Homo sapiens: one gene and its partner. The protein of the gene in region 2 interacts with the protein of the main gene of each other region in a pairwise test. Each region holds a gene or a part of one and is shown on either strand. Other genes may lie near its edges. The genes, in order: MINDY3 and TRIM49.

The links.
Region 1: the proteins of TRIM49 (region 2) and MINDY3 interact in binary tests that used the Homo sapiens proteins (3 or more experiments, as listed by UniProt).

What each region holds. Positions count from the first base shown.
Region 1 is NC_000010.11:15,778,762-15,791,223, forward strand, and holds part of MINDY3 (ubiquitin carboxyl-terminal hydrolase MINDY-3), read right to left. Parts: intron 10,559-12,462; coding exon 10,486-10,558; intron 7,888-10,485; coding exon 7,800-7,887; intron 7,699-7,799; coding exon of another isoform or gene 7,693-7,698; exon of another isoform or gene 3,473-7,692; intron 3,466-3,472; coding exon 3,394-3,465; intron 2,206-3,393; coding exon of another isoform or gene 2,116-2,205; exon of another isoform or gene 1,088-2,115; intron 381-1,087; coding exon 231-380; 3' UTR 1-230. UniProt on the Homo sapiens protein: Hydrolase that can remove 'Lys-48'-linked conjugated ubiquitin from proteins.
Region 2 is NC_000011.10:89,802,874-89,816,078, forward strand, and holds the start of TRIM49 (tripartite motif-containing protein 49), read right to left. Parts: upstream 5,703-13,205; 5' UTR 5,564-5,702; intron 4,412-5,563; 5' UTR 4,226-4,411; intron 1,601-4,225; 5' UTR 1,597-1,600; coding exon 1,186-1,596; intron 921-1,185; coding exon 825-920; intron 1-824.

The DNA of each region.
Region 1 (12,462 bases), on a different chromosome or scaffold from region 2:
GCTTAATTTTGCTAGTAAATTTCACACGAAGGGGTAAAATAGGATAATCTTTAACATAAAGCTTTAGGACAAATAATTTAAACATATCATAAACACTGAAAATGTGTTTTTAATTGTTATTTACAGTTAATCAGTGATACCAGTGTTTAGCTTAATCCAGCCAATTGCCAGTCTTGACTCCTTCTTTCAACATCTGTTATTAAGATCTTCCTTATAAATACTTAGACAAATTAATTTAGTGAAGGAGAGCGATCTGTGGTCCAGAGTAACTCAATGTATGGCCATTTGGTTTGCAGACAGCGTTTAATAGGAGTGTCATCTGTCTGTAGCATGGGATCTTCAAAACCCATCACAACTGCAGTCCCTTCTACGTACATGACCTGTTGAACAAAATAAAGCCACCAAGGTCAAGCAACAGTCTTAGCAAATTCTTATGTGGAATGAAAACAATTTTTAGAGGCTAGCAAATAAGGTATTACATAGTTTCAGATGAAACTTGACATGTAATTTTATTTTGCTAGAAATGAGAAGGAATATCTGCTTACTGATTAATGTGAAAGTAAATTTGTAAACGATATTTAATTGCTAGCTGGCCAGGTGATTTTTAAAAAATTCAAGATCATGTGAATCCTAAAACACATAGATTGTTTCTAAGAAAAAAAACATTCTTCAACGGATCTATACCATCGGAAAGAAATGCTTAATTATCATATTTACATATAATTTATACAGGTCCTACTGCTTTAATACTGAGGTTCTCAGATGCTCATGCTGCCTAATGAAACGGAGAGCTATAAAAGGAATATAGCTATTATGTTCTGAGGAACATGTGTCTCCTTCTAATTTAAGTATTGAATTTCTAGAGCTGAAACCAATTTGAATGTTTGTCAACAAAACTTGCTATTATGGTATTAAATATTCCTGAAATGCAATTCATGAGTGCATTCTGTACAGCATGAAAAATCATGGAGAAAAAAATTAAAAAGGATGTCAGGACAGAAAGAAAAGTAAAAGAGACGTTGAAAGATCAAACTAACCAGATACTGTATATGCAGTGGCAGTGATCACAGAAATATATACTGGCAGGTGAATAGCAAGAAAAATTTTATTCTGATTAATTTACAATGAAACATACTTAAAAAGTATTTTGGACATATCAACAAAAACCCTAACTCATTACCAAGGGCTCACTGTGGACATTAAGGCACTCCTTGGTGGTTAATTTCTTTTTTGTACCAAGAGAAATTCTGATGCTGTATAATTTAAAAGAAACAGATACAGACGACTGTCTTCTTCCAAAGTGTATAAAATTATTTTTACACATTCACTGGCTGATACACATGAGTGTAATTATGTTCTTCCAAAATAAAAGCCATAAGCTATTTAAGGAGCCAAAAGAAACAACTTTATTATCCTTAAATGGTAGTTGCCTCTAAAACACATTAAATATAGGAATAGAATATATTACTAGATCAGATAATCTTGTGTCATGAATCTACTCATTCCTAAGAAAGTGCTAAAGATACATTGTAACGTGAAATACATTTTTTGGCATCTTTATTTTAGTTAATATATTAGTTTCTAGTGTTGATGAAATAAATTGACATTGAAACTACAACTCGGGCTTTTCAGTCCCCAAAGCAAAACTGCCTTCTCTGAAAAGTTATACACAAAGAATATAATTCAAGTTATTAAGTTAAATACAATCGGCCCTATTTTTCACAAAGAACTTCATGTACTCATGTCATTAGAGCAGAAGTGCTTGGGCAAGGTGCCATGACCCACCTCCATGGCCTCAATCAGGCTCGGATGCCTGGCGGCTCAGACTCCATCTCACTTTGCCAGCATTCTCCTTTTGTCTGTTTCCTTTCTAACAGGACCTTGCTATGCAGCTTATAATTTTAGCTCCTGATTAACTTCAAAACATATTTCTGTGACTTAATGACATCCATACTTTGCTTTATAGCTGCTGTATATTACTGTCATTTTAACAGTTCATCCTATTTGTTTTCTAATCTTTTTGTTGGTGTGTCAGAAGCTTGTCACAAACATGATTTGAAAACTTATACTACATACAGGTAGAGTGGCCAAGCAGACCAAGGACAGGATTGGGAATCAGGAACTCAGTTCCAATCCCTGTTCTGCCAATGACTTGCTGTGTGACCCTGGGTGAGTCACTTGATCTCCCCGTCTCAGATGCCTCATCTGTAAAATATGGATAATATTTGACCTATCTTGCAGGGATTGTGTAGGTGAATAATTAGTGATTATAAAGTACCTCCTATTACAAAGCTGTGCAAACATCAAACTCTAGATGAAGCACTCATTCGCACATTAGAAAACAACATCCAAGTTTGCATATATATATACATGCAAAGAATATACATTGTCAAGAAAATTTGGATGCTGTATATATATATCTTTGGACCTGACAAAAACATCTAATTTATATTTTGTTATAAAGATAGCAGTAAATTTTAGTCTTTTAGATTTGGTCTAATTAAAATTATGTACTTAATTTACACTGTTTTCTGTAACCTTCCACAATTTAGATACATGAAGTCAGCATGGGCAGATCAAATTAAAAAGGAATGTTAGACCTTATTCCTTTAATATTAGCTATAACTAATACATATATATTATATATATATATATATACTATAACTAGTATGTACTGTAACTCATACTTGAATAAATGCAAAGATAATAGACACACAAAAAGGGGAAATCAATGCAGCCGAACTCTAGCTTTACGCCAGGTTGAGTACACCTGGCAGTGAATCACCTATGTGCTTTGTCAACGGTTAGCAAAGGAAAGCTGCAAAGCATCATGGGTAGGAGCATGGTCTCTGAGCTGGACTAAGTTTCACTCCCAGCTCTGTCATTTCCTGGCTGCTTGACCTGTAAAATGGAGATATACAGACAACACTTCCTTCATAAGGTGCTGTGAAACTTAAGCAAAGTACTTAATACAATTTCGGGTAAATGCTCAATATATGCTGACTATGAAGGTTATTTATTTAAAAATATTTTTTCCAGTAAAAAGTCTCACTGTTACCTCTTTCTTCCTTTAAATGGATAAGTAACAACTTTCACTGGACTAACTACGATGTTGATTTAGAAACACGCTACACTGCCAAGGGTAACGATCTGTATGGGGGTGTATTTAGTCATGGTGAAACTACTGCTCTGAAGTCCAATGTCAGTTTCCAATGCAGACTAACATATACTGGTCAAATCCAAAGATGGCTGATTCTAAAATGTGTCCTCATAGTAAAGAGACTCCTGGAATAATCTTAGGTAGCAATTGTACGGGAATCGAACATTGTTACATACTCACATAATTATTTCATCAACCCAGTTGAACACCGACGACTACGTGAATTATCATACCTTTTCATTATAATTTGACTGCTTCAATCCATTGTAGTGGTAGACAGTAAAAGATTCTGGACCACTGGAGCCCTATTATAAATAAAGGACTATTAACACTTTAAATTATATTTATATCAGGCAATTTCTAATCAACTGAAAGTAAAATGCATGTTTCTCAAATCCTTATCCTTTGACTGGGGACTCATTTGACAAAAGAAGGAACTTAGGTTTATGGAGTTGTAACTACCAGAAAGCCCTGAAGTTGAAAGTGTTGCCTCTGAAGAAGATGCTGGAAAGTAGGGAAGGTTGATTTCCATTATAAGCTCTTCAGAACTAACTTATTTTTTTTTTAATTATGTGCATGTATCACTATAACTTTTTTCAAAAGACAAGCTTCTAAAACATTTGCTAAAGTATATCTCCTTTTCTATGTAAATAATTTGTTCCTCTCAATGAATTGAGAAAAGCAGTAGCATCACTTTTACTCAGACTAAATACACTTCCAGTATGTACCAATACTTCCAATTTGGCCCACGATGTTTAATTAGTGGTTTCTTTTCCAAAAAATATCCAATATTTGAATATTGTCAACCATTAATTAGTGAAAAGAGCACTGTGAGAAATGAAAACATACTTATAATGCTTAAGGCGATTTCAGTAATATTCAATAAAGAAAGGATATCCTATATATCACTAACAGAGTAAGCTTGTAGAAAAATGGGTCATGTTATTCCCACTATCTTAACCTTGCTTTTCAATTAGCTAAAGATCACGTTCAACCCTCTTAACCTGGCGTTCAAGGCCATTACAGGCCTGGCTCCCAGTGATTTCCCTCAGGGCCCCTGGCTGAGTCTGCCTGGATAGATCCCCCTTGTCTTCCTGGCCATATCCGATGGATACAAACAGGCACATGGCCCTCCTTAGAATTTTTTCCAACTGGAATTAAGGGAAGACAGCTGCTGGCAACTGGAGCTTCAGCTCCTACAGAAAGATAGGCTGTGAGAATGTAGCCACTTTAGAGACAGGGGATGGGAGGTGGAGACCTCCCAGTGCTGTTCAAGGACTCCAGGAGCACTTTCCCGGTGCTTGCTTCTTCAATTCACCTGAGCTACTCCTTCCCCTTCATGTATTTTCCCCCTCACTTATGCCAATTTAGGCTGAGGTTCTGTGACCTGCAATCATGAGTCTTAAAATCATACAGGGCTTAATCTACCTTTTTAGTCTTATCTCCAACTACTCACCTTTCTGAATTCTGTTTTGGACAAGCATGACTCATTTCATCATGAAAAGATCTTTTGTTGGCCTTTTGCACATTCATGATTTTTTTTTACTCTTCTCTAAAATGCCCTCCTCTCCTTCCTTTTTCCAGACCTGGTTTAAATCTTACTTTTTCTGTAAAGTTTTTCCTGGACACACTAGTTAGTTTTTTACTACACTGGAACTTAACCTTTATCATAACAATTGTCTAAATAATTTGAGAAGGAATCATATAGTACTACTTTGTATCATCTCTTCTATTATTTTGAAAGACTGTTTAATTTTTCATGTCTTACATTCCCAACTAAAGCCTAAAATTGTTTTGTATCCCACTCAAAATGCCTTACAGAAAATAGAAAAATCAATTTGATCGTTTCCTTAATTACAGGAGTCATTGCAATTAGTTACATAATTTGACTCTTGGCTATCAGAGTTAAATTATTTGAACTTAAATAACCATTTTCCTGTAACTGAATATAATTTATATTCCCTATTTCCAGTAATTAACTGGCATAAAATACAGAAATACCAACAAAAAGTAGTGTAGCCCACTGGTAAAGTGCATAGACTCTGTGGTTAGACAGACTATATTGGATTTCTGAATCAGCTACTAAAATACCTAGTGTATGACCTTAAACAATTGTCTTAAGTTCTCTAATCTTCAATTTCCTCATTGTCAAAAAATTCCTGAATCAGCTACTAAGATACCTAGTGTATGACCTTCAACAATCGTCTTAAGTTCTCTAATCCTCAATTTCCTCATTGTCAAAATGGGGAAGATAATAGTATGGTGTTTGGAAGGCACACAGTGCCTGATGGAGAGTATGTGCTTGGGAAAGGGGAGCTGCTTCTGCTATTCTTATTTAAACGAATGGTCTTGAAAAGCTTATAAATATTACCACTTTTTTCTTCCTGCATCAGCCTCTACATCATAGCAAATAAGTGTTCTTCCACAGGACCTACTTGAAGCATTGTAAAGATTACCGAAGTTAAATATTTTCCTGGCTGTCCTTGTCACTCCAGTTTTGCAACTTCATTTATTTGTGGCTGATTAAATAAATGTTTACTGGGCCTCGTGAGGTGGCTCATACCTGTAATCCCAGCACTTTGGAAGGCCAGGACGGGTGGAACACCTGAGGTTAGGAGTTTGAGACCAGCCTGACCAACAAGGTGAAACCCCATCTCTACTAAGGATACAAAAATTAGCCAGGCCACCATATGTAGTCCCAGCTACACAGGAGGCTGAGGCAGGAGAATTGCTTGGACCAGGGAGGCGGAGGTTACAGTGAGCTGAGATCGTGCCACTGCACTCCAGCCTGGGTAAAGGAGCGAAACTCCATCTTAAATAAATAAATAGTTTACGGAATGATCACTATATTCATCTGTTAGGGACAAGGCAGTATGTGACTAATTGCCAAAAGGAGTGTTGAGTCACTATGCATTTTGTGGCTACAGGGGAAAGGGGACATCAGTGGTATGTAGGGCATGATCGGAAAAGATCTATGACACCGAGGGCGTCTGAGCTGCTATAGGATGGGAACAGATGGGAATAGGTGGGACTGTGACAGGTCTTCCTCTAAAGCAGCTGTTCTCTAACTTGGGCCTCCAGATCACTTGCAGGGCTTGTTAGACCACATTGCTGCACCCACCCTTAAAGTCTCTGCTTCAGGGAGAAACCTGAGAATTAGCATTTCTAACAAGCTCTTGGAGATCATACTGAGAACTCACTGCTCTAAAGGTAACCAAGAGCAGGATCACATGCTCGTGGGAGGCAAACAGCATGAACTATACAGACAATGAGACAAACCAGGCCCAGGTGGAGAGTGTCTTCAGAATAGCAGGCAACAAGTAAACAGTGAGAGAGGAACACAGAGGCAACAAACAGTACAACCAAATGGAAATGTCTGTTACAGGCGAAAGAGAAGGGACTAGAACCCTCTTTTTACCTAAAAAATTACTACAAGTAACTGTCTCACTTTACATTTCTCACTTTTCAAAATCTTCCCCAAATTAAATTAAAAACAGGAATATTCTTTTTATTATAACTAAGAATCAACATTTCTATCAAAAGTTCCGATAGCAGCCTTGAAATATAATTAAAATTAATACTGTCTCAAAGTTTAAGATGGTATAATGTATTATTAATCCAGATATCCAGTCAGAATGTGAACAAAGAGGATATCACACTGAAGGGTCTAATGTCGGACAATAAAATCTAATTTTTCATGAAGGCTTTAAGACCAAAGTTTTAAGAAGTCCAGTAGTCTACATTGTCTACATTGTGATATCCTCAGTTACTTTTTGAATCTTACCTCTTTCTTAACAATTTTATCTTGAGTTTAACAATCTTTTTTAACAATTACATTCTGAATTTTAGTAATTATATTTTGAAATTTTCCCTCTTGCTTTTAAATTTTTTCTATTTGTCAATATGTCTCTCTAATAATAGCGGTAAAATAGAAATTGGAATGTCTATTGCAACAATGAACTTCAGTGCAAACTATACTGATATCTGATAAAATGACCATGATATCTGTTATCTAGTTAAGTAATTTGATTTAGTGGTAAAATGCTTCACTTAGAGAACAAAGACAGAAAGATGGGTATTGGATATAGAACTGGCTTGCCAATGATGCAGATACAACTCAAAAACATTCAGGTTGGCCCAGATGCCTCTGCTATTCCAGGTAACTGAGCTCCTATCAAAGCCCAGTGGAAGACATGTCCCAATGGGAAACGGCCCAGACCCACTTAGGTTTTAATTCTCCAGGAGCTTAGCTTCACTAGCTAGGGGCTTCTACTACCCACAGCCACCTTGACCTCTTCTCACAGTATTTAACAGCTTCCTGAGAGAAGAAAAGTGGGGGTGGGAGTGGAGAAAGAGAATCTTTCTCTTTTTACTCCTCAAACTTCCGAACTGTTCTCTCCGTATCATTATGTGTATAGACTGGTGTCTGCGTCATCTTCTGCTGCCCTCCCCATCAAGGCACTGCGTTACCGTATTCGAACACACATTCCCTCTGTCTGGGAAGGTTTCCATGTAACGGTGTTTTCTCAGTCTCATATCTGCGCATTAGGACATTGTACAGAAAGAGAAAATGCTGCAAACAATCACAGGTAATCATCCCAACAGAATAACAATGAATATATTTCCTCAACTATGTTACCTGATCAGGAAAAAATTCTTGAAGAAATGGGCCCAATAATATGATTCCTAATCCTTCTGGATCTAATTTATTCTTCATGAGATTTATACTACGGGGAGAAAGAAGAAAAACAGTGGATACCAGAGGAAAAAAAAAAGCTGCTTTTCTTTCATGATTAAATTACTGGTACTACAACACATTCGGCTGCCAAAAACACTAAGAGCTGTTCTTTTTAGAACCTTAATGACAAATACACAGGAATGACATCTAATTTGCCAAACTTGGTTATTTTTAAACTAGAGTAATCTGTTACTATTTAAAATTTAAATTGTGATGACTTTGGAATATTGTTCCTTATTAGGTAAAGTAATTTAAAAACCAAGGTTTATAAACTCAAGCTTGTAACTTCCCAAAGGCAAATTCTCTTTGCTTCATAGGTATGCCTGAATTTAACAAATGAGGCATTTAACTAACAAAATGTTTTTCTTTTTCTCCTTGGGCTTAAAATACAGGGTCAAAAGGCAGTGGTACATCAGATAATAGAAAACATCTCTTAAAAAGCTTACTTTTAAAAACTAAATGAGATAGCAGCTTAAAATTCATAGACAATGTAATTTGAAGGTTAAAGAGCTACATTAATTCTCAAAGAGCTAATGCGTCATGAATGACAGTGACTGATATATACTGTATTGGTCCAGCAGCAGCCTAAAGTGCATACCAGCCCTTACAATGCAGGTGTACCAAGGCTGGTGACAGGTGGTGTTATGTGTGACTAGAAAGAAGGAAGAAGAAGGCAGAAGAAGGCAGACTGCAGTTTAATGGGTTTAAAAATGAAAATAGTCTTCAGAAAAGTTTTATTTTCCTTGCTATCTCAAACTATAAAGGCCAAGTTAAATCTACCTTACTACACAACATGCAAAGTGTTGTGTTTGGGGATTTCAGGTGGTTCTAGTCAACCACCTTCCTCAGGGGCAACTTCTCTCCTTTCAGTTTGCCTCTTCGGTCTGGGTCAGTTACCAGGTGTGCCTTTCACAAAAGGAGTTAAAGCTATTCTTGTGAGGGTAAGCTATGTTTTAAGGTTTATGAAAGCTGCATCTGCGCTGACATAGCCATCTCTCCCGGAAACACCTGGGTCAGGCTGCCTCACAGACCTCCTACCTGACGTCTAGTATTGGCCCTGTGAGATACTTTTGTGGGCCTGTGGCTATCATTCTTGTATAGTATACTGTACAAAGGATATGGCATTTTAATGAGTCTGAGTAAGGCCGGGAAGTTATGATGAAACAAATGAAGGCAGGGTCATTTGTGTTTAATTCATTTAATCCTTAGGATGGCCCAGTTATTTCATGGGCCATTCTGTATTACAGTTGTAAATAGGCCAAAGTAGAGTGAATACTTCAGTCCAATCTTTCAACTACTTCAAGAAAAACAACCTGATTGAATCAATTGTACTAACTTCATGATTCAAGGTACGTTTTCCATCTGATAAAACAAGGAAAATTAGGTAGATGATATATAGCTATGGAAGAATTTGGAAAAAAAAAAACTTTCTTCTTTCTCTTCCTTGTCTTAGGCTGGTCAGTAACAAAAATTACTTGAGTTAATTCTCTTTTGTAAATTAGAGCAGTGTAAACAACATGGTCTCTACTTGGAAATAAAGTTAGAAGAAGTATAGTAATTACTATCATACCATTTGTTGGACTAGTTCAACACTCTGAATTTCTCTTTAAATTGAAAACAATTATTCATTTATTAATATTTCTAACTATTGAGAATGGATGAAATCACAGCTCTGAGTAGTAAGCTTGAGACACATTAATTCAGATGTGGCTAGTTTATGTGTATTGCATACTTTCAAAGAAAGTATGACTGAACTCATCTAAAAACGGAACAAGACCAAATTCTAAAAACGGTGTCTACCAATGTTTCCTGTTGCTTTTGCTGAACTCTTTCATTATGTTTGATAAGCTCAAGTTTTTGCATTCTTAGAAAAACTTGCAGAAGGAAAAACTATGCTGAAAAAAGGAGTAAAGGTCCTATCTTAACTTTTATTCCCATATTTGATCAATACATGTATCCACTTAAGAAGAGTTATTTTTTCATGGATAATAACTAAAGATCTTAATCTACAGAGGAAGTTGTAGATGTAACAATGCATAAAACATAACAGTGAGAATGAAGACAATGACAGGATCCTAAGAAAATACTGAAAAACGATATGCCATAATATATTGCAGCCATCCCTAAAAGTTTCAGGTCAGTTAATTTAATCATTTAGAAATGTTAGATATCTTTGATCATCTTTATTTAAGAGGGAAAGTCAGAGGCCTGCTGGTTATTTAAGCAGGGCAACTAGCACCATCTACACAGAACCGTCATTACTTTACTGAAGATACTAATGTCACATAAAATTTTAAGACGTGGGGAAGTGTTTGCAGAGAAACTTTTTAAAGTTTATAGAAAGACACTTTTAGCATTTTTTAAAAAGCAGGACAGTAATTGCTGGGTGGGAAAGGAAACTCAATTTAAGTATGTCAAGTCTGCTATAATATTGGATTAGTTCGATTTCTTAATCTTTGCCTTACATAGATTGCTATGCTTCATATATGCAGATATAGATTTTTAAAAAGGCAAAAAATGTACAATATGTCTTAAACTTAATCGAATCTTTTTGAGTTGGCTAAATAACACTTCCTATTTAGCTTACTATTCAGGATCTGAAACAAGGTCCAATGCTTTCATCACATCTTCCAGAAGTGAATCGGGTATGAATCCATTATCTAGGGGGGAAAAAATCAGAAACAACTTGAAATAAGAATTTACTTCAAGAAATGCTATTAATGCTGATCAGGTTCCAGGAAAAAAAAATCGCATAAAAAATACAAAGAGTTAACATACTATTCCTTAAGTTTATTTTAGGCATAGTGCCTATTGCTATTAGAGACCCTCTTCTATTTGTTTTCTTGGAAACATCGGCAAATACTTAAAAATATTTTTTAACTTGAGAACTCCGACGAAAGCTTAAAGTCAAATTACTTGATCTTTAAACAGTGTTACAGCGTTAAGTGGGTAAAATATTTTTCTACTTAAAATCTTAGGTTTATCTTTCAATAAACAAAGTAAACCTTTACATTTGCATTTAACAATTCAATTAAAATAATTCTTTACCAACAAATTCCCTTTGTCACAATGTTATTTAGTTTCTTGAAGGAATGTCAGTGATCCACTGATACTTAGACAACTGACAGATTAACAGCAAAGGTATTCTAAAACAGACTTGGTGATTTAAATGAAAGCTGTAGGTTTAAAAAAAACAGCCCTGAAATGAAGAGTCAAACTAATGCTGATGATGACTACTTTATGGAAAATGGTCCAAACTCTGATGATGCAACAGACCATGACACACACAAAGTCCTTGTGGGGTAGTTTGAAATGAGAGTGGTTTTAAACAAAAGTTGTTTATTCCTTAAATGTACAGTGCCCAATTTTCCCTATCCATTTACTCATTCCTGAAGATTGTCTCAGCTTTAAATCAGCTTCCAATGTCCTTCAGGGATTAGATGATTAAAAAAAAAATCTTGCCATGGAGAACAAGATGTCCAAAAGCCCTGCTCCTATAATCAAACTACAGAATAAAGTGTGCAGTTGCTCTTTCAGGGTGTGGAATTGTACACTATCTCTATCAGAAAGGAATGAAGTTATGATTGTAGAAAGGTCTTTTCTATTCTTAAACCTCTTTTCTATTCTTAAACCTCATAAGGAGCTGTTTACCCATTTGAAGACAGATTGGCCTTGACTAAAAGGTTATGAGTCATCTAGAATAATTAAAAATGTGCAATTTTTTAAGTGAAGGGTTTAGAGTAATTCCAGTTTGTTAAGTTACCAATAATTTGAGGTACTGAGAATAAAGACGACCTTGGTTGAAGGCACTTGTGAAAACATTCAAGCTCTGGCTCTGTGGGCTTAGCTTTGATGAGTCTGATCACTGATTTTGCTTAAGTTAAGTCATAGCTAAAGGCTCAGCGTCTCCGAATGTGAAACAGGCTTTATGTGGCCACCAACAGACAGGAACAATTAGGTTTCTGTGTTTATAGGCTATATCCATTTGATATTACAGGTGGAGTCTCCCTCATCCAAAATGCCTGGGTCTAGAAATGTTTTAGATTTCAAATTTTTTCTGGTTTATGAATATTTGCAAATATATAATGGCTGAACATCCCTGATCTGGTCCAAAATCTGAAATGCTCCACGGTGTCATATTGGCACTCAAAATTTTGGAGGATCAACCTTTCGGGTGAGGGATGCTCAGTCTGTACACCGTTTTTCAGGAGCACTGACAGCATGTACTTTGTCATGGCTGGCAGCCTTTCCGCAGAAACCATAACCTGCAACTCAGTTCCCACCCCAACCAAGAGCTAATTGGCAAATGACAACAAAAACAACAATGTGACCTTCTTAACAACATGCTTATATATGATTAACCTCAAGCTTAAACATTTTTAAGGTAGCTATGAGATTTACAACTCATAAGCACAGATATTCTGAAGTGTAACCATAACTGTACCCGGTCAGTAACTCTACATTTTGTACATTTAGTATTTTAAAACTAAAGATGTAATAGAATTTTCTCAATAATTCAAAACTTTTAATATACTCAAGATTAGAAGAGATTTCAAAATTATTT
Region 2 (13,205 bases):
TGTATTGACAATTTGACTCTCTTATTTGGATTGTATGATTTGTGAGGACAAAGGTGCTTCCTTTCTTCTTTACTAGTATATTTTCTAATTTAATATTCAACATAGACTAGGTTCTCATGAAATACTTTTCAACAAACTAATCTTAGCTATCATACCCTCAAAATATACATCCACGAAGAGAAAATTATTTTAATGTTTTTCTGAAGTCCTCAGAGTTCTCCTTATGTTTAGATACTAGTTCCCATATTTCTGGCATGTTTACATGTCTCCCTCAAGACACAAATCCGTATTTCTCACCGCTTTTCTCATCGTATGTTATGTATTATTCAATATTAATTAGTTGAGATTCTTAATTTCATGGTTTCCCTAGATTTGCCCTGTCACTTTTTCTGCCTCAAATTTTCCATGCAATTCCAAATACTACTTGCACACTAGCATTCAGATTAATGCTGACCGACACTCAGAAGTTTCAGTTGAGCATTCCATGACTGCCAAATAACCCTTTTGCCTAGCATTTATCCAACCAGCAAATATAGAATGCTTTGAGATGGCCCAGTTTCTTGGATCTGTTGGTGTATAACTATAGGTTTGTATGAAACAAACCAGCATGCTTTGGGTGACATCAGTAGTTTTCTTAGAAATCCTACCTAACAGGCATACTATTCTATATAAAAATGAGGCCACTTTTTCTCAGTGTTTTCTCTCGCCTTTTTTTTTTTACTGTATCCCAGAAACATTACAGTTTGATATCAAGTTCCTATTTTAAGAGTCACCCATTTGCCCACCATAAGTTCCTGGAGAAGGTAGAGTAGTACAGGACTAACCTTCCAGCATCTGGTTCTGGTGGTTTCCACATTCAGGTTTCTGTGATTTTCACAAGCTTTTTCCCACAAAGACTGCATTTTCTGTAAAAGCTTCTCCTGCAAAAGAGCCATAAATTGAAGCACCAGTGCAGACCATGACATAGGGAGGGGGCCCAGAATGAGAGACAAATAAGCCCCTAGTAAATGGCATTTCCTTTGTTTCCCTTCATGTTTGTCAAAGCCCAGAGGTTGGAAGCTAAGAAAGCCCAAACAGAGCTGCTTAAAGGGACTCAGAGTTGGCTTTATCCAATCTCCAAGAAAATAGACCCACAGGAATTTTATGCTTCCTTTACAGAAATCGATCTTCAGAGCCATCACTTACCCGGTGTTCCTCAGCAGCCCACTCAATGGGACGGTGTCTGTGATACCGGTGCTCCTGAGAGCTGGAGCACAGCAAACAGAGCAGGCTCCTGTCCACTTCACAGAATATCTTCTTTGTCTCCCTGTGAGTGCCACACATTTGCTCCTCAGAGCTCAGGAATAGCCAGAGACTGACTTTTCTGGCAAGAGAAGCCATCTTCTTCAAATGAATGTTGGTTTTGAGGTTTATCTGCTCGGTTGACTTTGTGCATTCAGAGCACTGGACAAGAAATGGGATGTCTTGCCAGTTGAGGTAGAAACAAGGCCTGCAAAAGCTGTGCCCACAGTCTATGGTGACCGGGTCTATGAAGTAGTTCATGCACAGGGGGCAGATGAGTTCCCCCTGAAAGACCTGTAAGATTCCAGAATTCATGTTTCTGAGGAACAAAGAGAAACATGTCATTTTGGGGCCTGGGTTGATGAAAACCTTCTAAACATGTGGAGATATGTGATAGTTATATTTTCTTCTCTTGACAGTGTTCATTAAAGTACAACAAACTATTTCTTCTGTTACAAACTTAAAAATTTACACTTAGAGGGAGTCTCCTGGCTTTCTAACAGATATTACTAACCAGAGGACTCACAGTCCCTTCTACTCCTAGTTCCTGTCTGTAGCATAATACAAACCTATTCAACTACCCATTTTCTGAACATAGATCTGGAAATTGGGTTTTGATTCTAAGTGGTCAGAATAAATCATAGTTGTCCCTATTCTTCTTTCAATAACTGATGAATGACTGTGAAAGAGTGGGAGGGAAAAAACTACCCGGGCCAAAGAAATATGAGAAGATGGCCAAAGAAATATGAGAAGATGGTTCTATGACATATTTTTATAGAGAGTCACAAAAGCCGGGCAGCAAACCACCATGGCACAAGTTTACCTACATAACAAGCCTGCAAGTCCTGCAGTTATCCCAGGACTTAAAATTAAATTAAATTAAAAACAAAGACCCAAATCAAAACAAAATTTAAAAAAAAGCCAACCAACCAAATAAACAAAGAAAAAGACTGCAATTAAACTAATCAAGTTTCACTAGTAGGGAAAAGAAAAATTATTAAAGATATTGGGTCTTTTTATTTTCTTGCGGATTAAATTAACTTCCCCTAGGGCTGTGCAAGCTCTGAACTAACATATAGGAGGTTTTTGTTAAACTCAGAGAGGTGTAATTATATTTCCATAGTGTGATGGTGAATTTTAGGTATCAGTCTGACTGGATTAACCAACACCTAGGGAACTAGTGAAGCATTGTTTGTGGGTGAGTCTGTGAAGGTGTTTCTAGAGGAGAGAGACATGTGAGCTGGTGAGCTGAGTGGGAGCCTCATCTCTCAATGTGTGTGGGCACCATCCAATCAGCTGACACCTCAGATATAAAGAAAAAGGCAGAAAAAAGGCAACTTCCTCCGTCTCTCTCCTGAAACTTGTTCTGAACCTTTCAGACTTGAGCTTAGCCAGGATACCGGTATTCTCAGGACACCAGCTTAGAGACAGCCTATATTGGAACTCTCTAGACTCCATAATCAAGCAAATTAATTTTCCTGATGAATTCTGTCCCATGTAGAATCATGTATAGCTTGTGGACAGATGTATGTTCTGAGAAATGTGTCAGGTGTTTTTAGTTTTTTTTTGTTTTTTTTTTTTGAGACAGAGTATCCTTCTGTCACGCAGGCTGAAATGCAGTGGCGTGATCTCGGCTCACTGTAACCTCCGCCTCCAGGTTCAGAGCGATTCTCCTGCATCAGGTTCCCAAGTACCTGGGATTACAGGAACGTGACACTAGGCCTGGCTAATTTTTGTATTTTTTTAGTAGAGATGGGGTTTTGCCATCTTGGCCAGGCTGCACTTGAACTTCTGGCCTCAAGTGATCTGCCTGCCTTGGCTTTGCAAAGTGCTGGGATTCTAGGCACGCGCCACAGTGCCCAGCCCGGCGGTTTCATTGTTTTAATATGATAGAATATACCACACAAATCTAGATGGTATAGCCTACTACACCTATGGTATACACTATAGCCTATTGTTCCTACAATAGGCTACAAACCTGTACAGTATGTTCTGTACTGCATACTGTAGGCAACTGTAACACAATGATAACTATTTGTGTATCTAAACATAATTGAATACAGAAAAGGTACAGTAAACATATTGGTATTATAATCTTATGGGACCCCCATATGTGGTTTGTGGCTGACTCAAATGGCCCATGAATGTATCTGCACACATATATGTATACATCCTATGGTTCTGTCTGGAGAACCCTGACTAATATAAAAACTATAATCTTTGTTTTGGCAATTTTAAATCCTTTAGCATAAAGCAGCATAAAGCTGCTAGTTTTATATCACTTCTGAATTTAAGTGAAAGCAGTGAAAAATCTTAGAATTGCAAATATTTTCCAGAACTCATCTAAGACATTTTAAGAAATTTTTCACAGTTTAATAAGATTGAGACTCAAGTGAGATGACAATCACAATCACATACCATATTAGGTCTTATAAATTTACTTGTTCGAAAAATTGTGTTTTGATTTCTAAAGTAGGATATTTTGGGGAGCTTTCTCATTGTTTTAGTTTCACTATTTTGCATCGCTCATCATTACCTTACTAATTTAAAGTCATGTCTAAAACCTGAATGTTATGAAAGCAAATAACTTCATCATTCATTAATGTCTTCTCAATTCAATTTGACAATATTAATACACTCATTACATACATATACACACACACCTATGTGTACATATATGTATCAACTCCATATATTCATTATGAATACATATCTGTTGCAGCAAACACTAGATATTTTAAGTTTTTCAGAACTATATTAAACAATCATAGAAAGCACAAAATAACAACAATTAGTATCCTTATAATTCATAAAATCTATAGTAAGAACATGAGTTACAAATGGTATCATTGTGTAGATTTCAGATAATGAGATATTTTTAACACTCTAATTTATTATTGTGTAAAGGAAAGATGATATAATTTTATCAATATGTTTCACTCACCCTGGAGTTCTTTTAATGGTTCCCACAACGATTTTTCCAAAAATAATTTTGTTAAGTTCACCTCAAGATCAGAAGCTCATTCACTGCAGTACTGAATTTCAGAGGTCGCCAAAATGCAGTTCTAAGTGCAGTCCTTCTCCTTCAGAGAAAACTGAGCTTGTCTCTTCCGTGTCCTTTTATAAGAACCTGTGAAGACCACACCCACCTCTTTATGGGTATTTAGAGCATTCAGAAAGGTGGAGACAAAGATGATTAGGTTTATGCAGTATTTAGAACACACCTTTGCAGCTCTGATTAAATTATCATCACACTTTCATTCTGAACACCAGTGCCTGAATGAATCATATGTAACATAAATCCTGTCAGAGCATACATAGGCTAGAAATTAACTAAGATGCATTTTATACTGTTTATTGAGTTTCTTCCATGATACAGGCATTCCTCTAAGTGCACATTTATTTATTCTAGAGAAAGGGTCTCCTTCTGGAGTGCAGTAGCATAATCATAGCTCCCTGCAGCCTTGAATTCCAAGTAATCCTCCTGCTTCAGCCTTCCAAGTAGCTACGACTTTAGGCTCACACTATATCACCTGGCTAATTTTTTTTGTTGAAATTTTTGGTAAAGTCAGTGTATGACTCTGTAGCCCATGCTGTTCTCCAACTCCTGGCTTCAAGTGGTCCTCTGGTCTCGGCCTTCCAAAGTGCTAAGAGTACAGGTATAAACCACCTCATCCAGCTTAAATGCTGCTTTAGTACATTTATAGGATATTTCCAGAGAAGTCCAATGGAAGATAAAACTTTCCTTTTTGTTTTCTGTTTTCTACCACTCTAAGAGAAATCACTGATTAACCAAATAAACCCACTAACCTGGGGTCTCTCATTGAATTTACAAAACTTCACCAGTCTCATGGGTGAAAGATGAGTTATGATTTTAACGTTTTTCTCCATATAGTGCATGATGTCCTACAATGACTAGGAGTGCACCACGGGAATTATTTTGGGGATTACACATAACTTTTAGCATATAGGCAAATTCACAAATACAGAATCCAAATGATAGAGATGGACTATATTTTTCTTTCTATGCCAAGTCTTTTTGTTGTTATATGAAAATTATTTTTTTTAAAAAAGAGATTTCAGAAGGGACTACTCAAATATCTTCTGATAGAGGAATTCTTTGCCAATGGTCCAGAAGACTTATGGTCAAGACTGTCAAAACAGTGAAGACAAATCTATCAGACCCAGGTCTGTCCAGGTTCAAAGACAAAAGCAGAACCCATAAGATATATGTATAGTTAGGGAGATTCACATATGAATTAAGTGCAAAGACTTGACTTACCCAATTGTGGGAGCTGCTTAAGCAAATGTGAGATCCTGGGTACAGTCCATCAGGAAAAGAAATCCCCCGCTGGCTGGATCCCAGTGGTCATGAATCAAAGCTTTGGTTTAAAGTCAATAGGGGGCAACTGGAAGATTAGAGTCCCATTTGCCATTTAAAATGTTGTTCAAGGAATGCCTATGTGTTTCTTTAAAGGACTTTCACTGATGAAGTCAGGCTTACTTGGGTACACTTCCTAGTTACAGGATTAGGACCTTTGCTCGCATCTGCAAAATGCCTTTCCAGCAGGTCCTAAGTAAGTGTTTCATTGAAGAATAATAAGGTATGTCTATGCCACAAAATGGCTACTGCCCTCATTTCCCTCTTTGTACATACATGTACTCAAGTTGACACATCATAAAATCATCCAGAGTTTATATTTAATTAAATACAAGGAATTGAACAATAGATTTTCTTGTTCTATTGTCAGTTTACTATCCAAGACCACCAACTGACTGACCACCCTGTATGCACATTCTGTACCTCAATAAATCTAAGTAATTAACCAAAGTGTCCACACAGAAGTAAGATCTGCGCTGGTTGTGTGTGGGGGCCCTCTTGGCTCAGTCCTGGACTCCAGAGTGGGAAACTTGTGAAACCCTGGGTCATGGACTTGATCCTGTGGACATTCTCTGCTTAAATTCTGGAGCTCCGTGGCGGGGCCCTGGTACTCCATTACAAGGTCTGATGATGCTGTGTATCAGGAAGGAATTAGGGCAAGGAGAGAAAGGAAGGTAGGTAGCTTCTGATTTTATTTCAACCACTTTTTGCACCACATCATTCACTTATTCAAACACTCAGCTTTAGGCAGTTGAAGCCTAGAGCACTGGAAATTAGGAGCTTTCAATTACAGACCTACCTCTGTCTACTGTGGCATTATCAAGGAAACAACCTATTTTCCTACTTGAGTCTCAGACCATGAAACAAATATAAGAAAGTAATTCTCTTTAGAGTTGGCATTTTGTAGGTTCCAAAAGTCCTACCCAATCCAGAAGAGAGAGTAGAGGTGGGTATAGGCAAGAACAATCCGTGATGTGGATAAAGGACACTCCAGCCAATTTGGAATATTTCCTTATTTCCCAGTGCTTCTCCTTTTAATAAAAAAGATACTTTTTTGTACATGAGACTGTTTCCATTCTAGCATCTGAAACCTACCTCTACCACAAAGTTTTCTGTTGAATTACACATCTATTTTTGAGAATCTGGTAATAGACTCTTTTGTTCATCTGGGTTCTAAAACTCATTGGAAAATCTTTGTATGAAAGTTGGTGATCTATTTCTCGTTCCTTAACATATGTAGAAATCTGACTTTATTTAATTCTGGAAATTTTTAAATTTTTATAAAAATGCCATTCTATGATAAATACCATTTAAAACCTAGGTATTATAACTACTTTGACATTTTGTTTGTTTTATTTGCGCACATGGAGAGAATTCTGCATATTTTTTCCCATGCTAACAAAATTTATTAATTTTCCACAAATTTATATTTTGCTTTGTGGATCCTGAATGTCCAGGGCTATCTTTTCTTTAACGCTTTTTTTTTTTTTGGCATTTCTTCTCAATTGTTTTACCCGTTTATTGTCTATTTTTCTACAAACCCCAGTCATTTTCTCTTGAAACCTCTTATCTATTTGAGTGGAGAGAAATATGTTAGAAAAAGGAAGGGGACAATGTGATACATGGGCTATGATGTACCAGTTACTGTGCTGTCTCCATGCACACATTGTTCCTAATCTCCACAGAAAACATGCAATATGTGTAGCATTGTCCCAACTTTACATATGAGCACATAAAAGGTAAGCTTTTCGTTGTTGTTGTTGAGTCCGAGTCTCACTCTGTCGCCCAGGCTGGAGTGCAGTGGCGGCGTGATCTTGGCTCACTGCAAGTTCCACCTGCCGGGTTCACTCCATTCTCCTGCCTCAGCCTCCCGAGTAGCTGGGACTACAGGCGCCCGCCACCATGCCCGGCTAATTTTTTTGTACTTTTAGTAGAGACGGGATTACACTGTGTTAGCCAGGATGGTCTCAATCTCCTGACCTCGTGATCCGCCCGCCTCAGCCTCCCAAAGTGCTGGGATTACAGACGTGAGCCACCGCGCCCGGTCGTAAGCAATCTTTTTATGGTCCTGTTTCCTGTATGGGATGGATTCAGGGATCAATTACATGTCGTCAACTCCATAAATCCTCAAATCTCTCAACGTATTTTCTCACTTAGAGCCACAGAAACACATATGATTCCTTCTGTGCTTGTGTGTTCAGGTGAGGTTCAGCCTACATTCTGAAGTTTCTTCCTCTGATGAATGAAACATTGAGTTCTTGAATATAGCTACATTATCATTAGGCTGTAAAAATCAGAATCAAATAGGTTTCCTTCCTTGAGAAAATAATGGAGGCAACAGTTACAAACAGCACTCTAGGTTTTAGATTTCAATCATGTTTTTCCTTTTCTATTCTTTTTTCTTTTCTTAGAGACAGGGTCTCACTCTGTCATCCAGACTATAGAGCAGTTGCTGGATCATAGCTACTGCAGCTTCAACCTCCTAGGCTCAAGTGATCCTCAACCTCGGCCTCCTGAGTAGCTCTGACTACAGGCAGACACCCGCACTTCAGGTTAGTTTTTAAATTGTTTGTGGAGATATGGTCTTCTTATGCTGTTCTGGCTGGTCTCAAACTCCTGGACTCAATCCTCCTGCTTCGACCTTCCAAGGCACTGGGATTACAGGCGTGAGCCACGGTTCCCAGCCTCGAAGCATTTTCATAGCAAAGAGTTAACAGAACATTTTCTTCTCTAGATTCAGTAGACACAAGATTCTTATATTTTATTCTTCCCATATCTGGCTGTGTATCCTGTTCGCAGACATTACATTGCCAAATTTGTTTTCCATTCATCTTTCCTAGCACAGTATAGAAAAACGAGTACTGTGGAGTAGAGTTTTCACATTCTTTCCTGAACCCTGCCAGTTCTAATGGTGCTCATGGACTTAGCCATTTCCCTTCACTGGAATCCATTCTTGTTTATAAACAACAGTAAGTGTTGTTTATAAAATTTCCAAGGAACAGAGCAGAATGTAAGGTTAGCATATCTTGTGTTTTTACCTCCCCTAAGCCCAAAGGATCATGAGTACTACATACAGAAATCTTTCCTCCTTACCCCTGTCACATTCTACTTGGATGCTGTGGAGAAATAAACCCAGTGTATCCCCTTCTGCTATACAAAATAATACTATTTGGCTTAAACTGATGTTTGTAAAATTTCATCCACAGATTTCAGTCACATTTTCAAATAAATCCATTATAAAACCATGTAATACAAGTTGACTGTTTGTTATTCACAATGTTAGGGCCAGAAGAATTTCAGGTTTTGGATATTTGTGGATTACAGAATATTTGCATAGACATAATAAGATATCTTGTGTATCAACCCAAGTGTAAACACAAAATTTATGTTTCATATACACCTTATACAGATAGGCTAAAGATAATTTTAGACAATATTTTAAATAACTTTATTCATGAAGCAAAGTTTGTGTACACATGCCATTTTATTACCCTTTGTGAGTGCTCTTGCTCGGGGGCATCTAGGTGGACACAGAAAGATATATTGCAACTGAAGGGGCTGGGAGAGTCTTTTGTTCACTGAGAATATGTTTTGACTGTAACTTCTCATATGAGGTCACGTGTGGGATATTTCACTTTTGGTGACATTTCACAGCTCAAAACATTTGAGATTTTGGAGTATTTTGGATTTTTAGATATTTTGATTAGTGGTGCTCAACCTGTATGTTATTTCATCTTTTTTTTCTCCAGGTAGGAATGGAAAATGCATTTTTGTTTTTACTTGTATTACACATTTTTTCCAACTCAAATTCATTATGCATATTGTTAGATGTCTTCAAATTTTGATGAAAAGTCTCAAGTTATATCAATTACTATTTTCAAAAATTGTTTGTAATAAGTAGATTAAATACCATGATAATCCACAGTTAAAAAAATAAACACAAATTCATGTGCTTGTATTCCAGTTGGGTTTTTTTTCCAAACGATGAGCATTAATGAAATACTATACCTTAAAACCTTTTTCTAAATATATTTGAGAATATTGTTTGAAAGTAAAAAATTGAAAAGGACTGAACATACCATAATAAATGATATTTGTGCTTAAGAAGGCTGTCTTTTTCAGAGATTATTTATAAAATAAAAATACACATTTCTAACCTTGTCTCAGTTAAGAGCTTGTTACTGATGTGTTACTTATGATGTTGAATGTTGTTAGTCTAACAGGATGCACTGGTAATAGGACCCTGTCAAGCTGAACTTTCCCGATTTAAATGCTACCTCACCATTCCTGTGCAGTATGTTTTTATTAGAATTCTAGCAGTATGTATTTTATATTGTGACCTAAATAACAAGCACACACAAAAATGATTTCACACTGTGTATGCCGATGTATTTTAAAGTCTATGAAAAATATTGTAGGTATCAGCAAGTAGAACACTGCTTCATACATAGAAAGGGACCAATTAATGCTAAGTAAATGTTATTAGTTACTTAAAGAACTTTGCATTATGTAAATACATCCAAATCAATTATTATTTGGATGGTAATATGATAGCAAACCTAGATGCAGATTTAAGAAGAATATTGAGCAAGAATGGGTTAGGAGGGTGTGAGGAGTAGGCCACAGAGAAAGTTAATACCTATAATTTGCTGAGTCAGAGTTGAAAGCACCTATAGGCTAAGTGGATACCTCCCATTCTGACCCATTTCAGCAAAATATTTGAATCTTCCATGTTTTTCATAATTCTGGGAGTTTAGAAAATGCTTTAGAGAAGTGAAAGAGCCACTATATTTTATATTCGTTTATTTATTGTGTTTGGTGATTTGAGAATTTCTCTAAGTCACCAGAGATAGAGCTTCAGAATATTAATCTCAGGATACAAATCTATTTTTCAATTTTATACCCGTACATAACCCATTCTCCAAAGGTGACCCCTCTGTTAAGTGATAGTAAATTATCTTCAATGTCATTTAAGTTCACCAGTTTCTTGTGAAATGTTTTTAACTTTAAAAAGTTTAAAAACACAAAAAGCCATTCTTTAAAACTAAACATGTATAAATCAAGTTCTTAAAAACCAATCCAGCCTGGGCGTGGTGGCTCAGTCCCAACACTCTGGGAAGCCGAGGTGGGTGGATCCCTTGAGGTCAGGAGTTCAAGACAAGTCTGATCAACATGGCAAAACCCTATATCTAATAAAAATACAAAAATTAGGCTGGCATAGTTGCACGGACCTGTAGTCCCAGCTACTCAGGAGGCTGTGGCAGGAGAATCACCCGAACCAGGGAGGCAGAGGATGCAGTGAACTTAGACAGTGCCACTGCGATTCAGCCTGGGCAACAGAGTGAGACTACATTTCAAAATAAATAAATAAATAAATAAATAAATAAATAAAGTCTTCTACTCTTTAAAAATCATGGAAAATCTAGTATTGTAGATAAAAGCAGAAAACAAAATAGTTCTTCATATATTTTAGGTTTTAATAAGGAGTCATTAAAAGATAATTATAAAGTCACTTTATGTGGACTTAAAAAGGTAACATCAGGCCGCTGTGGCAGCTCATGCCTGTAATCCCAGCACTTTGGGAGGCCAAGGCGGGTGGATTATCTGAGGTCAGGAGTTCGAGACCAGCCCTCTCTACTAAAAATACAAAAATTAGCTGGGCATGGTGGCAGGCACCTGTAATCCCAGCAGAAGATTTGCTTGAACCCCTGGGGTGGAGGTTGCAGTGAGCCGAGATCCTGCCACTTCACTCCCGTCTGGGAGTGACATTGTATAATGACATCAGACAACTGATTTAGTTATCTAACATTGGAATGTATTTGTAGAAGTTTTTTTAAAATTTTAATCGATAAAGCAATTATACAATTAAATAGAGCCAATCGAAAGGATTAGGTTTTGCCTTTGAAACTGCAGAATCCTAATCTTCTATTAAGGATGTATCCATGCATAGTGTAAATTTTTTAAAAAATACGTAAATAAAAGGAATGTAGTGAAGTGTTTTAAGAAAAGTTTCTAACTTTGGAAATTCTACACAATGTACATGTAACAAAGTTCAGTCTTCCACATTATTAAAAAAAATAAAAAACCTCAGCGTTGGCCATTAGGATGCCAAGACATATCCAGTGAATGCTCAATTATAAAGCATCTAGCCTGGCTCACTTTGAAAACTTTTCTTCTAAAATTGTCTTCCTGGGGCCTTTAATACTTGACTCTAATTTATAGTTCTAGAAACTATTGAGTTTAGAGAAAGTAAATTCCAATCCATCCTTTCTAAAAGAACTTAAGTAGGCTTAGGACTTTCTTCCTAAAATGTATGAACATTGTTGTTCAAGCGTGTCATCGCATCACATTGAGAGGTGGACACAGGAAAGGAGTTTGAGAAAAGCCTAGGCAACATTGCGAAAACTCGTCTCTCCAAAAAAATTAAAATTAGCGGAGCATGGTGGGATGAACCTGTAGTCCCTGGTACTGGGGAAGCTGAGGTGGGAAGATTGCTATAGCCAGGGGGGTTGACACTGCAGCTAGACAGGATCCAGCAACTGCACTCCAGCCTGGGTGACAAAGCCAGACCCTGTCTCAAAAAAAATATATATAAAATATCTCACTAATATTTGTAATGTTTATTATGTTGAAAACATTTTGGATATATTGGGTTATAATGTTTTATTAAAATTAATTTCAATGGTTTCTAATTGTTTCAGATATCATTAGAAAAATGCATTCCCTCCCCTCTCCGTTATAGTTTCCCTGAAAATACATGCACTAAAGAAAAACGAAGAAAGTATGTTTTATTAAATAATATTCAAAATACAAAACAAAAAAACTTTTGAAATGTATTTAAGACAATGCTTACAAAACAATGTATATCATTAAATGCATCTGTTATTAACAAAGAAAGGTCTGTCGCAAACAGCCAGAAAATTAAAGCAAATTCCCATTAAAAAACTAAAAAAAAATTAGAGAAATTGCAGAAAATTGATTAAAAAGCATGCAAAAGATAAATCAACAAATTCAAAAGTAGGCTCCTTAAATAGATAAATTAAATTAATAAATTCCCAATGAGATTCATTTAAACAATGGAGAGGGGGAGTTCAAATCAAGAATAAACAGGCAAACTCATGGTCATCCAGATATCAATAAGCCAGCATGAATATTTTAGGAACAATTTATACCTATACATCTGACAATTTTGATGACATGAGAAAATTTCTTGAAAAACACAGCTGACTAAAACAGACGGAGGAGAACATAGAAAAATGAAAGATATGATTTGGATTCTTAAAATTCCGTGTATTATTTAAAAAACAAAACTCACAAAGAAAACTCCAGTGATCTCTTTCAGCGAAATTTTCAAAGCATTTTAGAAAGAAATAACACACTTTTAGACAAATTCTTCTAGAGAACAAAGAAAAAGCAACACTTTCTAACTTATAACTTTGTTTTTCTTTCATTTTTTTCTTTCCTTTATTTAGACAAGTTCTCCCTCTGTCACTCAGACCAAAGTGCAGTGCATGATCATAGCTCATTGCAGCCTCAAACACCT